Homo sapiens: one gene and its partner. The protein of the gene in region 1 purifies or fractionates together with the protein of each later gene. This does not show direct contact. Each region holds a gene or a part of one and is shown in the gene's direction. Other genes may lie near its edges.

What was found.
Region 2: the proteins of PGM2 (region 1) and GLTP fractionate together in Homo sapiens (co-fractionation; one large-scale study listed by BioGRID). This does not show direct contact.

Annotation. Positions count from the first base shown.
Region 1 is NC_000004.12:37,860,234-37,863,437, forward strand, and holds the end of PGM2 (phosphopentomutase), read left to right. Parts: intron 1-1,276; coding exon 1,277-1,379; 3' UTR 1,380-2,704; downstream 2,705-3,204. UniProt on the Homo sapiens protein: Catalyzes the conversion of the nucleoside breakdown products ribose-1-phosphate and deoxyribose-1-phosphate to the corresponding 5-phosphopentoses.
Region 2 is NC_000012.12:109,850,432-109,853,808, reverse strand, and holds the end of GLTP (glycolipid transfer protein), read left to right. Parts: intron 1-1,071; coding exon 1,072-1,254; 3' UTR 1,255-2,864; downstream 2,865-3,377. UniProt on the Homo sapiens protein: Accelerates the intermembrane transfer of various glycolipids. Catalyzes the transfer of various glycosphingolipids between membranes but does not catalyze the transfer of phospholipids. May be involved in the intracellular translocation of glucosylceramides.

The DNA of each region.
Region 1 (3,204 bases):
TTCAAAGCACATTTATGGAGAAGGAAAAGAAAACTGATATAATTCATATGTACTTAAAAAGCATAATTACTTTATATGTTGCCAGTAGGGATAAAAATAATTATAATGATAGCTACATTTATTGAGGTCTTTGGGCCAGGTTCAGTGCTAATTGCTTTATATAATTTATCGCAATCTGTACAGAAACTCTCTTGAGAAGATAAAGTCTTTATCCCAATTTTACAAATGAGGAATCTGGGCCTTAGAGAGGCCAAGCCACTTGCCCAAGGGCACAGAGCTAGTAAGTATAGAGCCAGAATTAATGTCTACAATGAAATGGATTGCTTTAGCTATTACAGTACTGTTTAGCTATTACAATGTTGAAATGATTTTAACTAATTATAGGGATTTCCATTAAAATAAACTCTGCATATATTAAAGATGGTATGAAGAGTATGAAGTAATGGAAAGTACAAAGGATTTAGATTTTTAAATTTAGCTTTTTGGTGTTAAGTACTTACAGTACTCACACTAGGCTACTTAAGATGCTGGAAACCTCTTTAACTGCAAGTCAGCTGTATCTGTTACTTAACCTTTCAAATGTTTGTATATAAATGAGTGTTGCCCACAGCCCTGAAAACTTGATTTTCTTAAAGGGATTTGTCTCCCCAGATTCTTGTTTATACTTCAGTTGTGAATCTTTGGTTCAAGAAATAGATTCATTATGATATGACCACAGGGATCTGATTTCTTGGTGTTTGACTCCTCAAACCCACCCGGAGGCTCCCTATTGCTGTTCATTCTAGGAAGGCTTTATAGACAAGGCTGGAGCTTAGGTGCCAGTAGTTTGAGGGCAGACATCATCACAAATGTCTGTATTCTGGGAGACTGAGGAGTTAACAGAGATGTTGTTTATAAAAGTTTAGCAGGATTTAATGGCAACTGACATGAAAGCTTTCTCTACACCCTTAGGTACAAATATTACAGATCTTTTAGGGATGCTAGGCCAAAAATTGTGTTTCTTACAAAGTCTTATGAGAAGAGCAAAGGATAACTTTGTTTATAGTTCAGACATTGGAAAAATCTTTGGGAAAAATAATGCATATTGTCTCATGGGGTGTTTTGTCTAAGTCAATAGATGTGTTCCATGCTTAAGTCTCTGGAGTTCTCTTTTTTTTCCTATTTAGTCCTCTTCTTAAGGTTATATTTTCATTGTCACTTGGTCAATGGGGGGAGCATTTAAACTGTGCTTTGGAATAATCCCTTGACCTGGATTTTTTTCCCCCTTATTTTCCAGTGATCCTGAGCAGCTGAAGAAGGAACTGAATGAACTGGTCAGTGCTATTGAAGAACATTTTTTCCAGCCACAGAAGTACAATCTGCAGCCAAAAGCAGACTAAAATAGTCCAGCCTTGGGTATACTTGCATTTACCTACAATTAAGCTGGGTTTAACTTGTTAAGCAATATTTTTAAGGGCCAAATGATTCAAAACATCACAGGTATTTATGTGTTTTACAAAGACCTACATTCCTCATTGTTTCATGTTTGACCTTTAAGGTGAAAAAAGAAAATGGCCAAACCCAACAAACTAACATTCCTACTAAAAAGTTGAGCTTGGACATATTTTGAATTTTTGTAAGTGAAGATTTTTAAACTGACTAACTTAAAAAAATAGATTGTAATTGATGTGCCTTAATTTGCATAAATCATAAATGTATGTCCTCTCTGTAATTGTTTTAATGTGTGCTTGAAATATCCAGAAAACCTATGGAGTTAGTAAATTCTGGGCTGTCATATGTAGGATAGCCACTTTTTAGGTATATGTACATTTATATTTCTATCAATTCCTTAGAAAGTAAAATAAATGAATAGATCAAATGTTGTGTTCATGTTTGGGGAAAATATAATTTGCAGAAACCTATGAAGTAGAGCAAAGATGCTTTAAAAAGATAAGTTTTTTTGAACTAAATTTTTTTTAGTTCTAATAATGCACATAGGATATTAGTACATCGTACACGTGCTAGGAAAAAACAGCTTCAGTGTCTTTGTTTAATGTGTTGAAACTCATCTTTTTAAATCTTGAAAAACCAATTGTTTACTTGAAACTTGAAAGTAGCATATTTTTCTGTTTTTTGGTTGTTTGTTCATTTGTATTAGCACAATTTAATGTAATTCCTGGTTTGGAGGCAGCAAGACCTATGAGCAAGAACTATTTACTTGACCCTCGTTTTTTTCTCTTGTTCTTGTGTGGTCTGAAATCTAAAACTAGACTTTATTATGATAGATTTCCTATAAGCCAATTTCTAATAACAAATAGATTTATTATTTAATCTGTACCTTCTATCTTCTCATAATTCGTGGTCTTACAGCCTTCCAAAATAACTCCAGTTGGGCACCCATGAGCTAGGATCAAACTTTCTTTATATACTTTATATATTTTACATTATTTCTGATTTTTAAAGCAAATGATTGCCATTATGATTACACTCAACCTAAATAGTTATGAACAGTTTCAGAACAATGAAAAATTACAATACTATGTGATAGTATTGTAACTATTTTTCTATTTTAGTCATATGTCGCTTATATCCTACCAGAACTCTTAAATCTATAATATTCGATATATTCTACAAACTGCTTTATTGTAGAAGCCATATTTATGTTTATTTTATAATGTTTTCTAGTGTCAAACTGTACTGTGGAGAAAAGAAATGTTAGATCTGTGTTCTGTCTGCATTTTTTTTGAGTACATACCCTTCACCCTCTCATGGAGTTTGTTTCTGGAAATACGAAGTTGATTATGACCCAATCCTGCTATGATGGAACTCAGTCTGATTGGAGGGCTAATAAGTAACAGCAATACTTACAAATTCTATCATAGTGTTTTTTACAAGTATTCAGCGTTCAGAAATCTGAGGGAGGGATTCATGCTGCCCAAAGAAAGCCTCATAGATGAGGTGCTGAATGAAATGCTTCACCCTTAGGGATGAGGAGCAGCTGAAGATGGGAAAGAAAGCCTTCCAAGCAGAGAGCACAGCACGGACAAAAATGTGGAGGCTGTAGCAAGTGGGGGTAGGGGAAGCAAGGGGAGATGACGAAAACAGAAGCCAAGATGGAAACTTTAGAATGCATCCCACCTCTCTACCACTCACATGAGCGGATGATTTCACTGGACCTAGAGGGGATGCGCCCGAACTCTATTTGTCGCCCGTATTTCTAAGAAA
Region 2 (3,377 bases), on another chromosome or scaffold:
ATCACGCCACTGACTCCAGCCTGGAGGACAGAGTGAGACTATGTCTAAAAAAATTTTTTAAATAATATTTATACTTTCCTCATCCTATCAAACTCATGGCCTAAACTTTTTTTTTTTTTTTGAAACGGAGTCTCGCTCTGTCACCCAGGCTGCAGTGCAGTGGCGTGATCTCAGCTCACTGCAACCTCTGCCTCCCGGGTTCAAGCAATTCTCCTGCCTCAGCCTCCCGAGTAGTGGGACTACAGATGCCAGCCACCACACCTGGCTAATTTTTGTATTTTTAGTAGAGATGGAGTTTTATCATATTGGCCAGGCTGGTCTCGAACTCCTGATCTTGTGATCTGCCCACCTCGGCCTCCCAAAGTGCTGGGATTACAGGCATGAGCCACCGTGCTTGGCTAGCCTAAGCTTTTTATCTAGTTGTACCTTTTTTCTTCTGGCTCTGAAATTCTGTGAATTTTGAATTCTCTGTACTTTTCAAGTATGGGAGCAGCTCTGAAATTTAGGGAAGTATCGCCCCCCTAAGGACAAAAGAGAGACTACAGCATATTTAGCAGTCGTCTCCCCAACTCAGAAAGTGGGTTTTCCGAAGGAGCAGTTCACCTTTTCTGGAGCAGGGAACCCAGAGGGAAGAGACTCACCCATGCTGAACACCTACTGTGTGCCTGGTGTTGTGCTGAGTGCCTACTGTATGCCTGGTGCTGTGCTGAGCACTTTGTACAAGCCCCCTAATCCTTATAAAAGCAACCCGATTAGGTGGCAGCCATTATCCCCATTTTGCAGATGAGGAAGCTGAAGCTCAGAGAGGCTAACTGACTTGCTCAAGGCTCACAGCTAGTTGATGGCCCAGACTGGCATTTGCATCTAGGCTTGTCTGTCCCGAAAGCTGATGTCCTTCCTGCTGTCGCTCAAAATACACCTCCCTTTTCCTTTCCCTTCCAACACCTCAAATAGCACAACCCCCTGTCCAGCACAGACCCAGGGAAGACCCCTCCCAGAACCCTGGCCTGCTGGCCTGGCTCCTCAGCCCCCGCTAACGCTGTGCCTACCTCCCTTCTTGCCTGTCTCAAGGCAGCACTGTACGCAGCACCCTATAAGTCTGACTTCCTGAAAGCGCTCTCCAAGGGGCAGAATGTTACGGAGGAGGAGTGCCTGGAGAAGATCCGCCTCTTCCTAGTCAACTACACGGCGACCATCGATGTCATCTACGAGATGTACACCCAGATGAACGCTGAGCTTAACTACAAGGTGTAGGCATGCCCACTGCTGGACACGTCCCCGACTCGTGGCCACATGGAGAAACAGGCAAACCAGAATCACTGTGAATCAAGTCGGTGAACTGCCCCTGGCCTGTGTCCCCCAGAGCAGCCCAGGGTCCTGCCAGAGTCTGCAGGGGACAGCCCTCGTTTTTTAAGTCTTTTTTTTTTTTTTTTTTGGTCTATTCTAAAGGACCAGTAAATAATGATCTTACTTCCAAATCTCCTTGGAATTTCACGACAGCACAGACTGACTTTATACCTTCATTTCAGCGTGGTAAAAACCGATTAACACTTCTAATGAGTCAAGTCCTAGGGTTTTTTGGTTTTGTTTTGTTGCCAACGAGGAACACAGCTCTGGGGGAATGGTGTCATCCACCTCGCTTTAAAAATAAGCACATGATGGCTGGGCACCGTGGCTCACGCCTGTAATCCCAGCACTTTGGGAGGCTGAGGCGGGTGGATCACCTGAGGTCGGGAGTTTGAGACCAGCCTGGCCAACATGGTGAAACCCCATCGCTACTAAAAATATAAAAAATTAGCTGGGCATGGTGGCGCACGCCTGTAGTTCCAGCTACTCAGGAGGCTGAGGCAGGAGAATCGCTTGAACCCGGGAGGTGGAGGTTGCAGTGAGCTGAGATCGCACCATTGCACTCCAGCCTGGGCAACAAGAGCGAAACTCTGTCTCAAAAAAAAAAAAAAGAGGTGGGTGGATTACTTGAGGTCAGGGTTTGAGATCAGCCTGACCAACATGGTGAAACCCTATCTCTACTAAAAATATAGAATTAGCCAGGCATGGTAGCGCACGCCTGTAATCCCATCTTCTTGGGAGGCTGAGGCAGGAGAATCGCTAGAAACTGGGAGGTGGAGGTTACAGTAGCCGAGATCGCGCCACTGCATTCCAGCCTGGGCAACAAAAGCGAAACTCTGTCTCAAAAAAGAAAAAAAAGAAAAAAAAGCACGTGACCTTATGAGGCTCTCGCTGTATTGTTATTTTAAGGACTATAAAGAGTTTGATTTAAAATTATGCAGGGCCCCTATGTGGGATTTTTTAAAAAGCAAACTGGTGTGTATTCTCATGTGGTTTGCACAGCCCAGCCTCACAGCACTATTGTAAACCCTGCTCTTTCTGTCTCGCTAGACAGATTTTTTTGTTTGTTTTCTTTTTTCTGGTTGTTTTTTGTTGTTGTTGTTGTTGTTTTACAGCTGAAACCAACCAGCAAGCCCTTGATGACCAAGAGGCGTTTCTTTCAAAGCTATAGGGCACAAACAATTGACCATAGATGACTCCGTTTGCATTCTTCTGCAGAATTATTTCCTTCAGGGACAGATTTTCCAACCTAAGAAACTACCTACCGTGTGTATTCTCTTGACGGGGAGAGATGAACCCTTCAGCTGCTAAGATCCAAGAAAACGCCTCACTGCCTTAACCTTAACTGTTCTTCCTGGCGCTAAAAAGAGCTGTATTTTTTAAAGTGCTGGGGCAAACAAAGCAACCCCAAAAGAGTTGATGTGTGTTTTAAAAGAAAAAACCCAATGAGGAACAATTGGAGATTTTTATGCAGAAACTAAATAATCCTTAATAAATAAATCTCTATTTTGGAATCACATCTGTGCACTGTATTGGTTCTTGATTTTTTTTTCTTTCCTGCATCAGAAATTACAACTGGGGACCCTTACAAATCCTACCAAGAATGTATTTTCTGGCGTCCATGGTTTTAAAATTTTATTTATCTATTATTTTTAAATGTTTTTGTAGAGATTGGGGTCTTGCTATGTTGCCCAGGCTGGTCTCAATCTCCTGGCCTCAAGCAATCCTCTTGCCTCAGCCTCCCAAAGGGTTGGGATTACAGGCATGAGCCACTGCACCAGGCCTGGCCTCCGTGGTCTTAAAAAACAGAACTGGTTGCTGCATGGAGAAACGGGAATTTCACATAAGAATCTTGGGTTTCGGCAGGGTGCAGTGGCTCACTTCTGTAATCCCAGCATTTTGGGAGGCCGAGGTGGGTGGATCACTTGATGTCAGGAGTTCGAGACCAGCCTGGCCAACATGGTAAAACCCCATCTCTACTAAAAATACAAAAATTAGCCAGGTGTGGTGGCGGGTGCCTGTAAACCCAG